Linked DNA regions of Homo sapiens: region 1 is linked to region 2. A link means that fine-mapping ties the variant in region 2 to the expression of a gene that starts in the linked region. Tissue or cell type: adrenal gland. Region 2 holds a variant in brackets; the other region holds the start of a gene. All regions are shown on one strand. Distances are from middle to middle.

Evidence for each region.
Region 1: it holds the start of KCNK1, and the variant in region 2 is fine-mapped to the expression of KCNK1 in adrenal gland (GTEx, PIP above 0.99).

The regions. Positions count from the first base shown.
Region 1 is chr1:233,608,021-233,619,116 of GRCh38, reverse strand. It overlaps KCNK1 (potassium two pore domain channel subfamily K member 1), which reads right to left and starts at 5,011. Exons shown (of 3, transcript NM_002245.4): 1 at 4,591-5,011. The coding sequence starts at 4,945. RefSeq lists enhancers at 3,985-4,044, 5,233-5,885 and silencers at 4,515-4,574, 4,915-4,984, 5,345-5,444.
Region 2 is chr1:233,506,406-233,517,501 of GRCh38, reverse strand. No RefSeq gene overlaps it. Among named protein-coding and RNA genes, the nearest start is that of KCNK1, 100 kb to the left of the region's middle. The variant A/G (reference allele first, on the strand shown) is at 5,011.

The DNA.
Region 1 (11,096 bases), 100 kb before region 2:
AAGCCCAGGAGTTAGAGGCTGAAGTGACCCACGATAGTGTCACTGCACTCCAGACTGAGTGAGAGAGCGAGACCCTATCTCCAAAAAATAAAAATAAACAAAAAGGAACAGGAACTGAGCTGTCACATGGATCCCACATTTACAAAGCAGCAAAAGGTACTAAAAGTTTGTATACTGCATGAATACAAAAATTATTTTTTGTTTTGTTTTGTTTTTATGTTTCTTTGTTTTTTTGAGATGGAGTCTTGCTCTGTCGCCAGGCTGGAGTACAGTGGTGCAATCTTGGCTCACTGCAACCTCCGCCTCCCGGGTTCAAGCCATTCTCCCACCTCAGCCTCCTGAGTAGCTGGAACTACAGGTGCATGCGAACACACCAAGCTATTTTTTGCATTTTTAATAGAGATGGGGTTTCACCATGTTGGCCAGGATGGTCTTGATCTCTTGACCTCGTGATCTGCCTGCCTCGGCCTCCCAAAGTGCTGGGATTACAGGCGTGAGCCACCGCGCCTGGGCAAAAACTGTATTTTTACCCAACAGTTGTCATCATAACATGGCCTTGCTTTGGGGAATGAATAAAGAAGTAAACTTTAGTAAATCAACATCACAAATTGTTCTTAAGAATGAACGACACTGTCCAAAGTTTTAGATGGCTACCAAAGTTTAATAATTATTTCTTACTCCCCAAATATCACCTGGACATTATTTCCTCAATCCTTGGGGAAAAAAAAAAAACACAGTATAGAAGTTCTGTGGGAAATTCTGCAGTCTATAATACCTCCTTTTTTTTTGTATACAACTCTTCTTTCTGAAAAGCTCAAAACTGTATTGCAGTGTTTCACTCATTCTCATAAGATTCCTATGCAGATGTTGCCGTATCTTTTAGAATGAAGGGTGATGGAGTTCAGGGCATGCGACCCCCAAACAGGGCACCTTAGCATTTGAGAAAACAGCAGAAGCAGGAAGATCATTCTCGCCTTCCTCTTAACCTTCTTCCCTGAAGCTCTGCCCTTCCTTTGAAGAAGACCCTCATTACAAGGGAGCCCATCCTATATCCTGAGAAAAGGAATGCTCTATCTTTGAAGACACAGAGATTCCAAGAAAAATCTGAACAAATAGGCCTTGCTAAATTCCTCCAGTTATTTAGCTTTTTAGATCATATCCTCTTTGTTCTTTTTTTTTCCCCCTCCAAGACAGAGTCTTGCTCTGTTGTCCAGGCTGGAACACAGTGGCTCAATCACAGCTCACTGCAGCCTCAAACTCCTAGACTCAATGCCTCAGCCTTCTAGGTAGCTGGGACTACAGGCACACGCCATCACTCCGGGCTAATTTTGTTAACTTTTAGTAGAGATGAGGTCTCACTCTGTTGCCTAGGCTAGAGTGCAATGGTGCAATCATAGCTCACTGCAGTCTTGAACTCCTGAGCTCCAGCAATCCTTCCACCCTGGCCTCCCAAAATGCTGGGAGTACCTGTGTGAGCCACCGTGCTCAGTCAGATCATATCCTTTTGTTCTCCAATCATTCGTCTACACAACTGTCCTAAAAATACATAAACTTCCCTGTTTCTTGGGGTCTTCATTTCTAAAGGCGTCTATGTCATCTAAAACTTATATTAACTAAATGTGTGTGCTTTTATCTTGTTAATTTGCATTTTATTATAAGTTCCCCGGCCATGAACCTTATGATGGGTGAGAAATCTTTTCTTTCCTACAAAGGGAAATAAAGAGATGTTAAATTGTTTGCTGGAAATAATTCAGAGTCTTTGGCAAAGCACAGAATGAGAAGACTATTGCTGAATTACCAACCTAAGCCTTCTTCCAAGTAGACCATGAAGACTTTACTCAGTTCCTTCCAGAAACGGAAGTTTGTACATTCTGGGGTGAGAAGATTCTGACATAAAAGCACTCATGGGCCTGTGTTACAACAATGACTACCAATAACAGCATCTTTGTAATGCTCATTGTTAGCATTCTGAATAAGTCAAGGATTGACTGTACTGATTAATTAGGTAACAATTATCTCAGTGATTTGCCTTCAAAAGGACTAGAAGTGTTAAGAAAAGAAAAAAAAAAAGCACAACATGTCTAATATCCACCCAAAAAACGAAAAGCGATTGCAACTCATTTTATTTGGTTGGCGCTTTTCCAGAAAATATTTTCCTAGTAATGAAGCACATCAGCTTTACTCTAAAAAATTGTCTGCTTCCAGCAAGTGATTTAAAATATTGTTTGTTTCCAGCACACAATTTAACATCTCTTTATTTCCCCTTGTAGGGAAGAAAAGATTTCTCACCCATTATAAGATTCATGGCCAGGGCACCTATGATAATTTGAAGACTTTAAAAAACATCAAATGAATCAAATAATGGGTAATTATAATTTTGAAACCTTAAGAAATATCAAATGTGTCAAATAATGGGGCAGTACAAAGCCAACAGAAGAGTACTTTTCATTTAGAATAGTTGTATTCATATAACAAGAATTCATTGATGTGCTAACTTTACAAACCAAGAGGCACCTTTTTCATTTAGTTTATCCTTAAGTGCCCCTTGCACTGATTTCTTAAATGAACACTTGTTTTGCATGAATACAGACTTTCTTAGGAACTACAAAGCAATCTGAATACCAATAATAAGACGTCTATTCCCACCCCACCCCTTTCTTAAACAGAAACTATCCCTTTTTCTAATTCTCCTCTGGGAAGAATATTTCATCTATTCAAGATTATAAACTAATTTTTAACATTTAATTAGACAATATGATGTTAAGACTATACATGAGTCACGAAAAATCCCACCCAGATAAAAGCAAACCTTTTTCCTCAAAACTGTTCTTATTCTTGTTCTATCCTCACAATATCATTAGTAAGAAAACACCACACGCTATAAGCATCCTTCGAAATGTTTACCCAACATTGTGACCCAGTTGTAAACTTTCTGTAGCCCCATGGAAACACTTACTTCTGGGAAGAATGAATGACTCTCAATATAGCACAAATATACTCCAAAGGAAAGGCATGGTGACTCCTAAATGATCTGAGGAACAGAGGACTAGGTAAAGACAATGGAGGCAGAGTTATGGAAAGAAAAATTAAATTGTATTGGCAAGGGAACAGGCATTCTTTGGAAAGTGAGATAACAGGTCTGTCTTGTCTAGCGCTACATTTAACAGTTTTTTAGATCTCACAATACAAGCTAGAATTCCACTTCTGTTTATTTCAGGGTAGATTTACATCAGTTTAGTAATTCACCCCAGACCTCTGAATAATTGTTTCATGTGATCTACATGAATAGTGTATTATTACTCATTACCAAGTAATTACCAAGATAGTCAACAAGATATAGCCCAAAGGGAATTATACACAATAATTTGGGTGGTGGAGGGGGGTGGGGAGGAAGGAAGAGTTGGGAGTCACACAAAGGGATGTGATTCACCTGTAAAGGTTGAGGGTGGGGGGTTACAAAGTGGTCCTGGCAGAGAAATCACAAGGCCCAGGTTCCAGGACGACACTGGTAACTAGGAAGTGTGTGACCTTGTGCATGACGAGATGGATTATTTCAAAGATTGGATCTCATAGATCAAAAGAAGGGACTGTGCTGAACGCTCTTTCAGATTCCTCCCACTGTCCAAATACCAATTGATATCTCCACTCTGGGTATGTGCCTTACTAGGTCCGGCTGGGGAAATTCGGCCTTCATTCATCTGATCTGGCACAGTGACCGAGCCCTGGGGCATGCGCCCGGCCTCATCTTTCACCTGAGGAGGCTCCTCCATGGCCGGGCGCCCCGCGGGTGAGTCGTACGGGGACGTGGCGCTTCGAAGTTTATGGGGAGCCTCGCACACCTCAAGTTGAAGGAACTGCTGAATCAGGGTGCCCCAATTAAGTCAGATCTTAGGCAATCCTATGGTTCCTTTACTCTCCCTCACCCTTCCTCCTACTCTGAAAAGAAACCGGATCGGCCTGTCCGCCCAGAGGTCACCTGGGAAGAGCAGAGTGATGTCACTCGGCTACCCCCAAAACTGCCTCCAAGGTACAAAAGAGCTGGAATATCTGTGCATGGTCCAAAGGGACGGCACACTCCGGAAGGTGACCCTTTAGAAGGTATTATTACCAGACTGCAGCCTCGGCCTCTGGGATGGGTGCGGGAGGAAGGTGGTGAGTTTCCATCATCCCGCTGCCTTGCCGCACGGCGGCCAGGTGCTGCTACACATTCAAACCCGACAGTTTGGCTTAGTGGGTTGCGAAAAAAGAACTCAAGGGGAGGAAGCACCTGCAGCCACCCAGGCCGAAGTTAGGGACCACTTCCCCAGAGTTACGGACGGCAACAACCAAGTCACGTCTGGAGTCACCTCTCTGGCTTCCGGCTCCGCAGGGCTTGCCCTCCCGAGTCACCCAGGCAGAGGCCGGGGACGCCAGTAAGGGGAAGGTCGGAGGGTCGGGAGGACAGTGAGGGGAGGCGGGCTGGAGGAGCCGGGATGGCGAAAGGTGGGGGGTGGGGTGGGAGGGTTAGAGGGGCCCGGGGCGCCGGGGCCGGGGTGTGTGGGTTGTGGGCGAGGTGGCCGGGGCGGCCAGGGGGCGCGCAGGATACCCTACCTGTGGTGGAGAGCACGGTGCTGGCGAAGAAGAGCGCGGAGGTGAAGTCCCAGTTCCAGTTGCCCGAGGCGTTGCTGAGCACCGACACGCCGTAGTTGCTGGCCTCCAGCACCCGGCCCAGGAACTGCTCCAGCTGCTGCTCAGACAGGCACTCGTGCTCCTCCAAGAAGCGTCGCTTCAGCTTGCGCAGCTCCTGGCGCAGCAGGTCCTCATAGGGCAGCTCCACCGAGGAGAAGACCACTGCGCCGAAGACCAGGTAGAGCAAGTAGCCCAGCACCAGGAAGCCGAAGCACCAGGCCGAGCGGTGCCGCTCCACCAGGCGCACGCACGAGCTGCCGGCCAGGGACTGCAGCATCTTCTCCACCGCCGCCGCCAAGGCCAACGCCGCAGACCGGCCGGAGCGCGGCCCGCCGCCTCTTCTGGCCCCGCCGCCCCCGCCCCCGCCCGGGCCTGGCTCCCGCCCGCCGCCCGCTCCCCCGCGCGCCCGCCCGCCCCGCTCCTCCGGGCAGCGCCGTCTTCCTGCGATTGGCTCTCTCGGGCGATGTTTTTCTTCCTTCTTTTCCTGTTTCCTTGCAATATAAAAAGCCCAGATGATGTGGCGCTGACGTGGTTGCCGGCTCAGGTAACCCGAGAGTCAGCGGAGACCGCGCGCAAACTTGGCCAGAGCGCCTGGGCTGGGCTGCCGGGGCCCGGGACGCACCGCCTTCTGCGCACTCCAGAGGTGGGGCGGGCGCTCGGTGGCGCCCAGACCCCGACCCGACAGCCACCAGCTCCTCCCGCTCCCTCCCTTCCTGGGTCCAGTAGCCAAACTCTAGCTGACCGCGCGCGGCGTGTGCGTGTGTGTGTGTGTGTGTTCGCGCGCGTGTAGTGTGGGCCGCTTCTGGTCAATGCGCTGGCCGTCCAAGCCCCCTGTCCAAGCTACTCTTGTTTCCCACTTATTTTCTCCCAATCAAAGCCAGTATTACAAAACAGCAAGCGCTGAAGTACTTTCCTTCTTTGTCTTATTGGTCGAAGGATTGAGCAATCTGGTGCCAGTAATGACGGTGAAAATACCAGAACATCAGAGTTGGAAGGCTCCTTGAATCAGTCTCCTCTCTCCCACCCATCCCCCTCACAAAAAGGACTTGAGGGAAAAGGAGAGTCTCAGAGAAGTCCTATTTCTGAGTTCGAATTTTCTAAAACATGACCTTAGGTTTTTTGGTGAAAAAACATCCCAAATGTGTCAACTGCCAGAAGAAACTGAGCTTTCCCAACTGTCACTTCTTTTTAAAGTGACAAAAATGTGGGCGAGGGTCAGCGAGCCGCCTGCTTGTGGATGAAAATAAAAATTGGTACACCCTTTCTGGAAAGGCAATTTAGCGACACGTCTCAAGAACCTTGAAAGGGTTTATTTGTTCTGATTCAGTGATATGTCCTAAGAAAAAACAATCAGAGAGGCACTTACTTACAAAGACTGGTCATAGACGGTATCTATATATACATACATGTAGTTGTATAATATAGTGCATACACATGTGGGACACACACACACACACACACACACACACGGTATAGATGAAATAATGAAGACTCAGAACAATCTAAATATTCCAAAATAGAGAATGGTTAAATAAGTTATGGCATCTCTACAGCATGGACACCATATAGACATTAAACACATTAAAGTTGTGTCTAAAGACTATTGAAGCAAAACTGTGTAGAATCTCAAATATGTAAAATATTTGTATTTTGTTACAAAATAAAATGACATCTGCATTATTAATCAACTGCATAGGAATAAAACTATCTCCTTGCAGTTGTCTTTGGGTAATAGTAGAGTATATAGATGACTTTCCTTTCTTGTACCTTTTAATATTTTTCAAATTTTCTACAGTGGATATATATTATTTTTGTAATCAGGAAAAACATTTAAAATACACAAAACTGAATTGTACAATTAATCATTCCAACACCTAGCTGAACATTTGCCTACTTTACTGAAGTTCTCTAAACAAGTCATATTTTGTATTTTCATAGAAACTTGTGCAAATGTCTAACATATATATCAGTGATTTTTCACTTTTAGTCAATAGCCTTACCTCCTACGTTACTCAAAAGATTGAAGCCAGCCCTCCACTTTACTTCTCTGTACTTCAAAATTTACTCATCGGTAATCCATTTCTTCCCTTTGCTCTTACCCCTAAGGAAAAAATGTACCTCCTTATTTTCAAGGTGAAAGGAAGCACTTACCACTCTCAGTCCTTCCGCCTCTGGGAACCCTTCCCCATCAGCAAGTGCCCTACTCTTTTAGAACTTGAATTCCTCCTTCTCCCTCAAGTCTCCATCCTACAATGTCCTTCCCTGTCCTGCTCTGTAACCCTTGCTTGCCCTATCCTATCCTTGATCTTTGCCTATTTGCCCTGTTCAGAGACCTCTTCATTCATGAGGCTACCCCCGGCCGTAGCAGACCCTCAGAATTCTCCTCCTGCCTGTCATGATCATTTTTCTCCCTATGTCTCTGCTCACCTGATTCCTTCTGCTTGGACAGTTCCTCCTCCATCTCCATCTGTAACACAGTTTATATCCTTCAGGACCTGGCTCACTCATGAAACCTGTGATTCCCCAACAGGATGTGAGTTCCTCTTCCCAAGACATACAACCCTTTGAATGCCAGATTGTGTGGGGTACTTGTGATGAACTGCAGGTGCAGGTGTGGTTATATCATCACACTCAAATATACATACATGTATTGTGGGAAAAAGAGTTTCTGGAGTGCCAGTTGAGTTGTTCTCCCCTGTGTGAGACACCCATGGGGAGCCATGGGTGACCTCTGAGGAGAAAAGTCTCCTTATTGCCTTCATGTCTTTATGCCCTGAGAGCATAACTGCTCGGGGGCATTCCACAGGCTGCTCAGGGAGATAACACGCCCTGGAAGCAGTGGAGTATAATCAAACATCTTGGCTCCTCCTGAAACCCGCTCCCACCCCTTTCAGTCCCAATAAGTTAAAGATCTTAAGTAGTTTAGACACACGCAATCTTAAGTAGTTTAGACACACGCCTTTGCTCAAGGAAATTCACAGAGACCACCACTGCTGTACATCTTATTGAATGACTCACAAGTTCTCCTTCACTGATTAATCCTTTTCCTCATCCCTTCCTCCCCCTCCCATCTGCCCTAAGAACAAAGAGCTTGTAAAACAATAAATTAGTTGGAGCCCAAGAGCTCTGGGCCATGAGCAAGCCTCCTACACAACGGTCCCCTGGACCCACCTTTTAAATGCTTATTCTGCCTCTTTCTAACTCCTGTGTCTCCGCTGGACTCGGGGTACCCGCCGGTTGGTGTGGGGCTGGTTCCCCCAACATGTATATGGCAGCTTTGAAATATGGTTGCAAATTCTTTGACAGTCCCTCACCAAAGGGTAGGGTTTCTGTCCCCTATCCTTGAAACTTGTGACTACTTCAACTGACAGAGTACATAAGAGATGATACTAGGTAATTTCCAAGGTTAGATGATAAAAGACCAGCAGCCTCCAACTTTGTTCACTGGAACAATCCCCTCTTGGAGCCCTGAGCCATCACATAAGATGTCTGATTAACTTGAGGCTGTCATGCTGGAGAGGCCACATGTAGGTGTTTCAAGGGACAGCCCAGTGAGCCCAGCTTCCTTATCATTCTCGCCAAGACACCAGATAGATGAGTGTAGCCATCTTCAACTCTCAAACCAGGGCATCCACCTGCTGAATACCACTGGGTGTCTTACCTCTGTCTATCTACCCAGGAACAGAACTCCCAGCTGAGTTCTGCCTGAATCCTGAGATATCATCAGATGGCTGTCTTAAGCCATCGAGTTTTTGGCTAGCTTGTTATACAATAATAGATAACTGGAACAACATGCATCTTGACTACATTGAATTTTAAAAATTATTATTAGAAGTTTTCTTCAGACAAATTTGCCATTTTCTCCATAGTTCACTTCTCTGGCTGAGACTCTGCCCCAGCTCTACATCACAACTAGGCCAAGGATACCAAATATTTTTAAATCATATTATCCTCAGACTACAAGTAGAAACTGGAAATATCATGGAAGTGGTCTGATGGGGGCATAGATCTCATCCTGCAGGACGAGGTACGTTGAGTGGAGCCTGGATATGGGGCTGGGAAATGCAAAGACTTCTGAGGTTCTGGCTGTCTGAGTTGATGGGAATCCTGATAACACAGGTTGGCTGCCTTCCTTCCTCGTCCTGGGCCACTGCTCTAGACAGATGCTCCTGTCTTCAAAGAAGTTAGCAATCTCGGAAATGTTAGAATTTTTTCTTCTAAAGTTTGAAATCTTTACTCCACATGATCTGTGTGTAACTCACTGCTGACTAGCTACTTCTCTCTGGACCTCCCAACACGGATTAAAGGGACCATACAAGCTGACATTTCTGCTGACTCACCCCCACCTAGCATGCCACACGCTATCCCCAAGCATGTTTTAGAAGAGAATGGGAATATGGAAGAAAACTCAGAGAAGAGTGCAGAGATACAAAAGAGGGGATCAAGGGGAGTAGGAGTGGGGGAGTAAAGAGAGTGGGGGAAGAGGCCATGGCTTCTTTCTGCTTCCTGCATCAGTGTCCCCTCTAACTGACATAATTTGTGGACTGGTGACCATGCTTTCTGAGAAACAAACTCTGGGCTTGGCACAGAGCCTTGCAAGTTAATCTGATGTAGAGCTAATGATGTAAATGATCACTACTGTGTTGTATGATACTTGGGCATCAATGGGCTTCATGACCTCAACAGGTTGAGATGATGAGAATAATTTGTAGAGACAGTGGTTCTATAGGAACTTGGGATCAAAAAGTGAAATTTACAAATACAGGGTTGGGAAAATCCAGTCAATCAGCAACAAGTACAAAAAGTTAGCATTTGCAATTCCACCTCTGGGTATGTACCCAAAATAATTGGAAGCAGGGACTTGAACAGATATTTGTATACTCATGTTCATAGCAGCATGATTCACCGTAACTGAAAGGTGGAAGCAACCCAAGTGTCCATCCGCAGATAAACGGATAAAAATTATGATACATACATACAGCCATATAGTATTCAGTCTTAAGAAGGAGAGAAACTCTGACACCTGCTCTACATTTGATGAACCTTGAGGACATTATGCTAAGTGAAATAAGTCATTCACAAAAAGACAAATACTATATGATTCCACTGGTATGTGTACCTAGAGTAGTGAAATTCACAGAAACAGAAAGCGAAATGGTGGTTGCCAGGGGCTGGAAGAAGAGAGAAGGGGGATTGATTGTTTAATGGGTATGGAATTTCAATTGTTCAAAATGAAAAAATTCTGAAGATAAATGGTGGTTGTGATTGCGTAACAATGTGGATGTCCTTAATGCCACTGAATTGTACACTTAAAAATGGTTAAAATGCTAAATTTTATGTTATGTGTATTTTATGGCAATCCTAAAAAAAGAAAAAAGTTAGCATTCGGATGGACAGAGGGGCCACATGCATTAATAGCAAGCTGAAGCTCTCCCACCAGCTGATGAGCTCCCAGGCTCTATCTGTGACATGGGGCCCTTGAAGAAGCAGACAGCCACCACTTCCAGAGAGTGCTGGGTGGTTCAGGTGGGGCACAGTACAAAGAACCTGAAAGACCTGGCACAGACGCAGATGCGAGGCACATGGCTGGTGATGGGTCTGGAAATTCTGCTTAGAGAAGTGGCTGAAGGATTCCAGGTGCTTTCCCTGAGAAGAGAAAACTTAGGAGGATCTGGTAGCTACACATGGAAAAAAAAATGTGAGTTTATTTTGTATGTCTTCAAAGGGCAGTGCTAAGATTAATGGGTGGAAGATACAGAATGTAACATTTAAAATTCACTGTACGAGAGAACATTCTATTCATTTGAGTTGACTGTCAATGGAATGAGCTGCTTCTAGAAACAGTGAGCTCCCTTTCATGAGTGTTCAAGCCGAAGGCAAACAATGACAAATTAGAGAGGTAGAATGAAGAGCATTCAGCCGATGTCATTTAAGGTTCTTTCCAAGTCTGAGATGTTATGGTTCCAGCATCTATAAGGTCAAGGGGAGGAGGAGGGAAAGAATGAACCAAGTGAAGCAAAAAGTCACCCTGAGATGCCTCTGAAAATTTTTGGATTCACAAGCAGGGATACCCAGAATGTTCTAGCCCTGAATCTCTAACTCCCCAGTGGTGCCACGTCCAGTTGTCAGGGAATACAGACGGAGCAGGCGCTCAGCTTCTCTGTTACCTTTGGCTGAGGGTGTTGCCAACTCCTCTTATTGTGGTAAGGTGGCTATGCTCTGAGGTGTGCAGATCAGGGCTCAGCCTCCAGACAGGGCCTGCCAGGAGGCAGCAGTGACAGATGATGCCCCTTCATATCCTCTTCCTGCCCACACAGGCCCATGGTGGCCTGACCACCGGTGGCCTGAGTGATGCTTATCATTTTCCTGCCTTCATCACTGTCTCTTACCCATGCCCTCCAATCACACTTTGCCTGTGAGTGTTAAAT
Region 2 (11,096 bases):
AGCTATGTCTAATATTAGAGCCTTGGTCACAGTATGGGACAGGAGACTCAGTAGAGTCAGCGACCAAACTGTTCTTTTGACCTACCTCCATGGATTCATCTCTGAGTTCTAGAGAGAGATGAGCAGCAAATAAAAACTTACAATTTTTCTCACCAAAAGCTCTGTAAGATATTTATTTTTTTAACCGAGCATTTATTGCTTTTTTCTGCCCAGCATCCCTTACGTTCATATTCCGATAGCAGTACCTTTCCTTCTTTGTGGAATTTTTCTTACCCTCTCTTTTGTGAGGCTTTAATGGTACTCTCCATTTCAATATCTTATCCTCGGGCCACCACGATTGATGCAAGCAAAAGCACCTGACCCAAACTGTATCAAACAGTATCTTTGATAAGATTTTACATATCGTTACAGGATCTTTGGGGTGTTGCTTTTCTGGCCAGAAACCTCTGTGGCTGGTGGCACCTTTCCCTGAGTGTTGCTCGGGCCCACTGAGCTTGTTCCACTCACTTGGCCTGGCAGGCCACGCTCGGCTCACGCCACCAGCCTGGACCCCACGACTCTGAGTGGGAGTCAGGCATGGAACAGCAAGGGGTGTGTGAACGAGTGTGGGGTCCAGCCACTGCACACAGTCAGACACGACAGCTGCTGCCATGGCACAGGCAGCTCCAGGTGCTGGGATGGGTGCCCACTCTCTGTGAGACTGCAGCTGGACCAGGTGCACCACAAGCAGCTTCCCTGGCTGGCACCAGGGAATGCAGTGGTGCCCGGAAGCCTGGAGACATCAGGAACCACAGGGCCCCAAAGAGGGAGTCACAGACCTGGCTTTGGGAGCCTCCAGGGCTGGGATCCCTGAAGGGCTGCATCTTTTCTCTCCTTCTCTTCACCTGCAACATAGCAAGTAAGGGGCATGTTTCAGCCCTGTTTGTGTTACAGCTCTTTTAGCCTCATTTGGCAAGTCCCAAGTTCTTGTCCCTTGACCAGAAAGAATAAGGTATACAAACAAGTGGAGGGTGAGCAAAATGAAGAGGAGCTATATTGAGCAATGAAACAGCTCTGAGGAGACTGGCAGTGGGCAGCTTCTCTCCCTAGCCAGGGTGTCCCAACAAGTGTTCAACTCTCAGGAGAAAGGGTAGCTCATCTCTGCAGCTGGTCCTCTAGTCATCTCCCCATTGTCTCCCCATCCTCTGCTTGAGTCTGGCTGAGTCTGGAGGATTTTATGGGCCTCAGAGGGGAGGAAGTGCATGCTGATTTGTCCATGGGCAGCCATGGGTGGGCACAGGGAAAAGCACCATAAGATCCCCCTCTGGTCCACCAGACTGATGGCCTGGCTCCCAGGCTTCAGGTCCTCCCTGCTTGAAGGTGGGGCCTCTCTGGAGACCAGCCCATTCTGCCCAGGAGCCTGTCTGCCTCCACTATGGTTCACAGCACCCAGGCTGTTCATGGCATCCAGGCTGTTCATGCTAAGGGGCGCCTGAAGGCCAGTGTGGGGCTGTCCCCAGGGCCCCCTTTGCCTCCCTCCCGTGCTTATTGGTGCCCGAAGTCCACAGGGGCTGAGGTGGCAGGGGGCTTGCATGTCAGTGCTGCCCCGAGTGTGTGAACGCAGCTGGGCTGCAAAAGTGTGCAGGCTCATCCCCCAACTTTGCTCAGAGATTGGGAGAGGCACCAACAGCTGGGCCAGGCCATGGGAGCAGCCACTTCTGAGCCTGTGGAAGGCAGGGGGTCTTCCCAGACCCCGAAGAGCACAGAGATGCCTGGGTCTGGAGCCGTGGCAGGGCACCTGCAGCAGCACCCAGGGAGTTCCCACCCCACCAACTAGAAAGGGGCAGGGCTCCCACTTGTCCCCTGCTCTGCCAGCTCCCTGGAGTGACCTCGCCACACCTCTTTGCAGCCTGGGGCGGGAGCCTGGCAACTGGGGGAAGGATGACGTTGCTGTGAGTTCTTTCTGTGTCCCCGGGCTCAGGGGAGGCCTGAGGTTCCTCCTCACCCAGCTGGCAACTCTGCCTGGGTGTGCCTCTGGGAGCGCCTCTGGGAGCCCATCATGAGCACCAGTCCGGCCTTCGGGAGCTTCAGGCTCGGCAGTCACCCCAATGTGGGGCCGACCCTGAGGACGTGGCCCTGGGTGGCCCCGCCAGGGCTTTCTCCCAAGGTGCATGACTGGTTTGTGGGCACGGTGGCTGGCTGCTCCCTGGTTCCTGTAGTGGGAGCCCCTCCCACTTCCCACCCCGGGCCCCTGAAGCATGGCCCCAGCTCCGCCCCCCGCCGGCCCCCACACTCCCCGTGGAAGCGTGGCACCACTCCAGGCCCAGCTCTCCCTCAGGGCCCCTCTCTGCCTGCCCCTTCCGTACCCGACTGCTCTGCTCCCCCACCAGCTGGAGACTCAGCCCGGCCCCATCACGGCGGCCCGCAGGACGGGGGGCTCCGGGGACTGTCCACCTCCTCCCCATGCTCTCCCTGCAGCCGCAGCGGGTGACAGCAGTGACGTAGGGCCACAGTCTAGAGCAGTGGAGGCTCCGGGCCTGGGAGTGGTCCAGCCTGGCTCCGTGAGGGTGGGGGTGGCACAGTCGGCTGCCCCAGGACTCGAGGCACAGGGGACTCGAGTCACAGCGGTCCCACCTATGGTGGCAACCACATTACTTTGAAAGAGAAAAAGTAGTATCCCTCCTCTAAGGTTGCTAAGCTAGGATGATGTGAGCCTGGGTCAATGGCAGGCCATTTCTCAACAAACTCATCACATTCCCCATGAAAGAAATAACTTCATAGCAAGTGGGAATGAAAGCAATAGAAAGAGAGAGATGTGGGGCTTTGAAATGGGTGGAGATAAATATTGACACCAAGGAGGGAGGGAGTGAGGGAGGAAAGAAGAAAATGAAAGAGCAAAAGTGAGTCTAACATTGTTGAGGCTCTGAAGATTCTAAACCCATATTGTGGATTTTCTGATTATATATGATTCAAGAACTTCCCAGTTTCTGAAGTCCAGAGAATTAACAGAGATCAGCATAAAAGTGGAGGAAGGGCCAGGTGTGCACTGGCTCACACCTGTAATCCCAGCACTTTGGGAGGCCGAGGCAGGTGGATCATTTGAGGTCAGGAGTTGGAGATCAGCCTGACCAATATGGTGAAACCCCATCTTTATTTAAAAATACAAAAAAAATTAGCTGGGTGTGGTGGCTCATGCCTGTAGTCCCAGCTACCTGGGAGGCTGAGGCAGGACAATTGCTTGAACCCGGGAGGCAGAGATTGCAGTGAGCCTAGATGGCACCACTGCATTCCAGCCTGGGGGACAGAGCAAGACTCCATCTCAAAAAAAAAAAAAAAAAAAAAAAAAAGACAGTGGAGGAAGAAGATTTTTCCTGTTATACCAGAAAATAGCTGGCCCCATGGAGCCTTTATAGGATACGGCCACTAGCACCTCGAGTGCCTCAGCACATTGATAACTGCATCCCTGCAGGGACACATCCAGAGCACGCGACTGTCACAGGTCAGAGCCTGAAAACGGGCATCTGGAAAAACAGATTTAGTAGTAGCAAGATGCAGCAAATGTCATTAAAATTGCTACGGTCTGAATGTTTGTGTCACCCCCAAGTTCATATATTGAAACCTAATCCCCAATGCAATAGTTTTAAGAGATGGGGACTTTTAAATCATGTGGATAGAGTGCTCATTAATAGGATGAATGCCCTTATAAAAGAGGCCTGAGAGAGCTTGTTTGCCCCTTCTTCCACATGAAGACACAGAGAGAAAGCACCATCTAGGAACTAGGAAATGAACCCTCACTAGACACCAAATCTGCTATAACTTTGATCTTGGACTTCCTAGCCTCCAGAACTATGAGAAACAAATTTCATTGCTTGCAATTACTCAATCTTACCCAGTCTAAAGCATGTTGCAATAGCAGCCTGAGTATTCTAAGACAGAAATAGTAAAAAGAAGCTTTGAAAGAAGTTGGGGTGGGGGTGAGAGTGTTTTGACATATATAATAGCACCCTTGATGCTGACCAGACATGGCAATTCTCACAAAGTATATAATCATTGATGTACCCAGTTGTAGACATATTAAAACAGGGGTGGGCAGAGTATAGAAAAGGAGAGGAAAAAAATTAATGGATGTCATATGGAAGCATAAGTGAGACACCCTCTGAGGCCTCCTACAAATAGATCCAAATAGGAGCAGGTCTTTGAAAGGAAAGCAGTCTTTTTGGTGGTTATAACTGTAATTGGGACTCTGTTTTGTTTGTTTGTTTGTTTGTTTGTTTTGAGACAGAGTCTCACTCTGTCGCCCAGGCTGGAGTCCAGTGGCGCGATCTCGGCTCACTGCAAGCTCCGTCTCCCGGGTTCACGCCATTCTCCTGCCTCAGCCTCCCAAGTAGCTGGGACTACAGGCACCCGCCACCACACCCGGCTAATTTTTTTTTTTGTATTTTTAGTAGAGACGGGGTTTCACCATGTTAGCCAGGATGATCTTGATCTCCTGACCTCGTGATCTGCCCGCCTCGGCCTCCCAAAGTGCTGGGATTACAGGCGTGAGCCACCGCGCCCGGCCTGGGACTCTGCTTTGACTCTCAGACGAAAAGATCTGAGAAAAATGAATTACACAAAGCTTCACATTCCCAACTGGCAAAAAACAAAAAAGTAACCATGCCCATGATAAAAGGAAGAATAAGGTGCTTTTCTTGAGTCATTTTGAGAGGCAAGAATCACTGAGCAAATAAGATTGACACAGGCATGTCAATAGTACTAAAAACAGGTACTGACTAAGATTGCATCCTCGGGAGGATCATCTAAAACTGAGCTGAGCCAAGGTCAGGATCAGAGCCAACACCTAGAGGAAGCAGGGCAATCAGACTGTGAGGACTGATCCAAGGATAGCGCTCACAGGGGCTGGCAGAAGAAGCAAAGACAAATTTATTGCAGCAGGGCCTCTTTCAATTCCTTGAATGGAAGACTGAATTCACATAGTGTAAGGGCAAGAATATCTCAATCCAGAATCTGGGACACAAGTTTATTTCCAAG[A/G]CCTCTTACAGAGGAAGAAGGTATTTGACTTGAGAACTAAGACACCCTTATAATCTCACCTTTCCAGTCTACTACTTAAGCTATAAAGTAAGAATATTGCTATATTTGTCTTTAAGGATAAAATGAGATGGGATGAAAGCACCATGAAAAGCTAAATGCATCAAAAATATGGAAATCATTGTAATGAGCAAAGCGTGGCAATGCCCTGTAGCCAAACTTGGCTGGACGCCGTCTCCCTCACCTTTCCATCTCTTTCCTCTCTTCTCTTGGTCTATGCTAACTCCATTTAACATAGAAAGGAATCCCATTCCTTTCTCAAATCACACAGGCCATACATATTGGCACACACACACACACCCTGGTATGTCATGGATGATGCTTGTCTTACCAAATCTGCACTAGTCTAGGAGTAGCTGCTGGTGGCTGATGTCTGTTCTGATTGACAGTGTCTTGCAGTACCAGTGATGAAAGATTTTGAAGGTCATCCCTGTTTGCCTGCATAGTGGTTTCTTTTTGCACAATTTTATATATTTTTTAAATTTTACTTGGGAGAGATGGACTATTGAATTTGCCCCTGTTCTCAATATACTCCCTGCCCTCCCACAAGGCCTTTTTGACTGGAGTTGAGGAGCATTTTACTGCTCAACTTGCACTAGGATATTTTAAAGAGAACAAATCTCTAAATAAATAATGGGGCTGCAAATAGACATGATATGATTTTACACTTTACTAATTGTAGACAAGAGACTGGGCGTGGTGGCTCACACCTGTAATCCCAGCACTTTGGGAGGCCGAGGTGGGCAGATCATCTGAAGTCAGGAGTTCGAGACCAGCCTGGCCAACATGGTGAAACCCCATCTCTATTAAAAATACAAAAATTAGCCAGGCGTGATGGTGTGCATCTGTAATCCCAGCTACTTAGGAGGCTGAGGCAGGAGAACTGCTTGAACCCGATAGTTGGAGGTTGCAGTGAGCCAAGATCGCGCCACTGCACTCCAGCCTGGGTGACAGAACGAGACTCCATCTCAAAAAAAAAAAAAAAAAAAAAAAGGAATTGTAAACAGGCATGTAGGCAGTCAACAGGAGTGCATTTAGAGAGTCTAGTCACTGGTGAGCAATATTTTCACCCCCTCCTCCTCCTGCCCCCTGGCTGCCCTTTAAGTGGAAGTGAAAGTTCCTAAGAAATTTATTGTTTAACATTTATAGGAAATTGCTCTTCTCATGTTACTATATGAACTTTGGTGAGAGGTAAGGATGAGAATTTTCTATCTCTGCCAACAGTTAATGTTGATAAAGGTTTTAATTTGAGGAGTTTTGCTAATTAAGTCATTAACTGATGTGAGAAAACTCTTAATGAGACAAATATTTTGGATGAGGGAATTCCACAGCATTTTACAATGCTTTTATTTAGAGCAGAAGTGGGAAACATGTTTCCGTTTACAACCACCATCATATTCAATACAGTAAAATAGATGCGGGTCATAACAGCAAGTGCCCCCATGTTGTCATGAAAAAGATGCTGGTGCCAAAGAGCCAATTAGTTGCAGCCCTTACTCTTTAAATAACCACCAGACATCATTTTCCGTCTGAAACCTCCTTATTCTGAAATATAAATGAGTAACTGATGAGCCAGTGAAGGAGAGAGATTTCCATCCTTCCAGAAATTCAGGTGTAAATGAATGGGGCTTCGGCTGGTGAAACCTACTCACAGGGAAAACATTAACATTTTAACAAAAGTGTAGGTAACTTTATTTTATTTTGGAGAGAAATGGAGTTAACAGTGAGGCATGTTGGATTTGAAAAACTGGTGATAATAGAAAGAAAAATATAATACATCAATACAGAATTTCTGCCTGCAAGAAGACTGAAAAAAAAGGGAAAAAGGCTTTTTCCTTCTCCCAACATCTGCCTCCAGGCTGAGAACAAATTATCTGTAACCATCAGAAAAGGGGCGGCTTTCTCTCTAATGTCAGTCAAGATGTGAGGATGAAAGAGACGGATGGAGCTGGAAACCATCATTCTCAGCAAACTATCACAAGGACAAAAAACCAAACACCGCACGTTCTCACTCATAGGTGGGAACTGAACAGTGAGAACACTTGGACACAGGAAGGGGAACATCACACACCGGGGCCTGTAGTGGGGTGGGGAGAGTGGGGAGGGATAACATTAGGAGATATACCTAATGTAAATGACGAGTTAATGGGTGCAGCACACCAACATGGCACATGTATCCATATGTAACGAACCTGCACGTTGTTCACATGTACCCTAGAACTTAAAGTATAATAAAAAAAAAACATATATATATATATATATATATATATATATAAAAGAGCACATCCAAGGGGCATCACTGAGGAGAGTTTTAATGAAGGGGCTACGTCAAAACTATGTGAAGGTCGATGAAAACCAACAAGGGGTTTATTGTACCTTGTAGGGCTATTGCCACCCTTAGACCCAAGGGACAAGCAGAGGGAGCCCACAGAGGAGCTCAGAGGGCACTTGAGGTTGGAGAAAGGGCCAGCTGATGGGAGTATGACCTTTGATGAAGATGTGCACTCGCTCAGGGTATCCTGGCAGAGAGGGATCCAGAAAATGCACTTGACCTTGCCTTTCTACCACTCTCTGACCTCTTCTCAGTGCTTCCAATGGTCCAACTCTAAAAGAAACCAGAGAACAAGGAACCTATTGATGCAGCACAAATGAATCAGCCTCCCAGGAACAAAACAAACTCAAGAAAGGCAGAGTGCATGCAGGGAGGTAAGCTGAAAACCTCCAGCACAAGTCTATGGGGTGCTTGATGCTTTCTAAGGTTGCAGTAATATATGCAACAGATGTACGCTTTCCCTCTCACTCTCTCTCTACACACACACACGAACACACACACACTGAGTTTTACCCTCTCCCCTAATTCTGCTATCCGTGCCTCTATTTATTCTGAAACTAATACTGTCTCCCAAACAGCTAAGGAAAAGAAAGGCAGAGGGAGAGTTCTTTAACCACAATTAAATTAAGTCTGAAATCACTTTGTATGTGTGTGTGTGTATTTATATATTCATATGGAAAATCACTCAATCAGTAATCAATACACACATAAATTTAAACTAAATGAAAATAAAAACACAAATATCAAACTTTCTGGAATGCAAGTAACCCAGTGCTTACAGGGAAATTGTAGCATAAAATACATATATTAAGGAGGAAGAAAATTCGAGTAGCTAAGCTTCCTCCTTAAAGATTGAGAGGAAATGAGCAAATCAAGCTTTAGAAAAGTAGAAAGAAATGGAATAACAAAGATAAGAGAAGTAATCAGTGAAATAAAAAGCACATGACAGATAAAACTAATACAAACAACAGCTGGTTATTTGAAAAATTAAACAAAATTAATAAAATTCTATTTAGACTGATAAAAAAGAAGGAAGACATGTTTTCCAATATCAGAAATTTAAAGTGATGCAAGGAGATCATCATAGATAGTACAGCTATTAAAGATAATAGAATATTATAAATAACTTTGTATCAATAAATTCAATAGCTTAGAAGAAATGGAACAATGCATTAACAGACACAAATTTCCAAAACTGACTCAACAAGCAAAAGAACATTTGAATAGCCTAATGTCTATTTTTAAAAATTGTATTTGTAATCTAAAAACTTTTCAAAAAAGAAAATTCCAGACCTCTACAGCATCACTGATGAATGCTCTCTAACATTTAAAAAAAGAGATAGAGGGCCAGGCGCGATGGCTCACACCTGTAATCCCAGCACTTTGGGAGGCCGAGGAGGGCAGATCATGAGGTCAAGAGTTTGAGATCAGCCTGGCCAACATGGTGAACCCCATCTGTACTAAGAAAACAAAAATTAGCCAGGTGTGGTGGTGCATGTCTGTAATCCCAGCTACTCAGGAGGCTGAGGCAGGAGAATCACTTGAACCCGGGAGGCGGAGCTTGCAGTGAGCTGAGATTCGCCACTGAACTCCAGCCTGGGCGACAGAGCAAGACTCCATCTCAAAAAAAAAAAAAAAAAGAGAGAGAGAGAAGTAGAATTCACCCTACACAAACTCTTTCAAAAAATAGAGGAGACAATGCTTTCTAGATTTATTTAATGTTACCAAGGCTACCATGGTTATAAAATCAGAGAAAGACATTATTAAAAAAAAAAAAGAAGAAGAAGAAAACCATAGCTCACTCTCCCTCTTGGACATAGACACAAAATTCCCTAGCAAAATATCAACCAATTGAAACCAGCAATTTATAAAAACAACAGCACTGACATTAGAGGCTCTGGAACTCTCAGTGAAGCCAAGGTAATGGGAGAAGGCACAAAAGGAAGCATCATCCCCATGGCACCTACACAGGTCTAGGGCTCAGCTGCTGAGCCCCTGCGAAGATGACAGCGTTGAGTCTCCACTCTGGTCTCTTGCCTCCCACTTCCCCACTCTGCCTATAGATTTCTATGGCAGCAACCGTGTTGATGCACTCAGAAGAGGATTCCACCTCTGTAAAAACATTTACTTTGAGGACATGGCCATGTATTTCTCCCAAGAGGAGGGAAGGTTCCTCAGTGATGGTCAGAGACTCCTATACCATGATGTGATGCTAGAGAACTTTGCACCATGGCCTCACTGGGACTTGCATCTTCTAAGTCTCATGTAGTTGCCCAAGTTGAATACGAGGGAGACCTCATGCTTCAGCCTCAGAGAAAGGGCCTGGGACAGAACCCACTCCTGTGCTCTCAAACACTGGCCTACACTGAATGTCTCTGGAGGTATGCACATATGCCTTTAGCAGTCCTTGGACACCAGCTTGTCAGTTGCAGTCAGATTTTCCTGAGTCTAGGCACCACCTCTGCACTGTGTTCAGCACCCCCACCACTGGTAAAACCCATTTGCAGAGGAGTATGTTGGAGGTCAGCCTCTCCACCTGTGCTACAGCTCAGCCATGTGCCCACTCTCTGGTTGTTGGTATGAAACAGAGGCTTAGGAGGCACTTCAGCAGAGGAATTCTGTGGAAGGAGAGTCACAGTGAGTCCCAAGCCCAGCTCATCCACCCAGAAGGCCCGCTGTGTGAAATGTGGGAGAGGGTCTTGAAAGATATTTGACCCGTGTGCCAGGGAAGGCATCCCGGAAATGGTACACCTATGGGGCATGAGGAAGATGGTTATGAGTCACTGCAAGCCTTCACCAGCATCAGGAGTGGTACAGTGGGGAGAAACCCTCAAGAAATTTTAAAAACATCTGCTCTTCTAAAGATACCATGGAGATAAAAAGCAAGCTACATACTGGGAAAATTATTCTTAATGCAGATATCTGATCCTAAATGTGGATCCAGAATATATAAAGAGCTCATAAAACTCAATAGCAAAAAATAATAATAATAATTTATTTAACAAAGGGCAAAATATTAGAAGACACTTCCCAGAAAGGTATGTAGAAATAAGAAACAGGCACATGAAAATATGCTGAATATCATTCGTCATGAGGCGAATACCATTTTTCTCATCATGGAATCTTTCACTCACGAAATATTCATAAGGCATCTATTATGTTCCAAACACTCTAGGCACTGAGAAATGATAAAAAAGATAAATGACTCCTCTCATACCATACACAAAAATTAACTTAAAATAAATAATAGGTTTAAATGAAAAGGCTACAACTATAAAACTTAGAAAAAAGCATAAGAGTAAATCTTCATGCCCTTGGGTTAAGCAAAGCCTTCTTATATATGACACCAAAAGCACAAGTGACAAAATAAAAAGTAGATAAATTTAACTTCATCAAAGTGAAAAATTGTTGTGCTTCAAAGAACATCATCAAGAAAGAGAAAACAACCTACAGGATGGGAGAACATTTTCACAATCTATCCATCTGACTAAGGTCTAGTATCCAGAGTTGACAAATAACTTAAACAAATTTACAAGAAAAAAACAAACAACCCCATTAAAAACTAGGCAAAGCACATGAACAGACACTTCTCAAAAGAAGACATTCATGCAGCCAAAAAAAATATGAAAAAAAAGCTCAACAACACTAATTATTAGAGAACTGCAAATCGAAACCAAAATGAGATACCATCTTACAC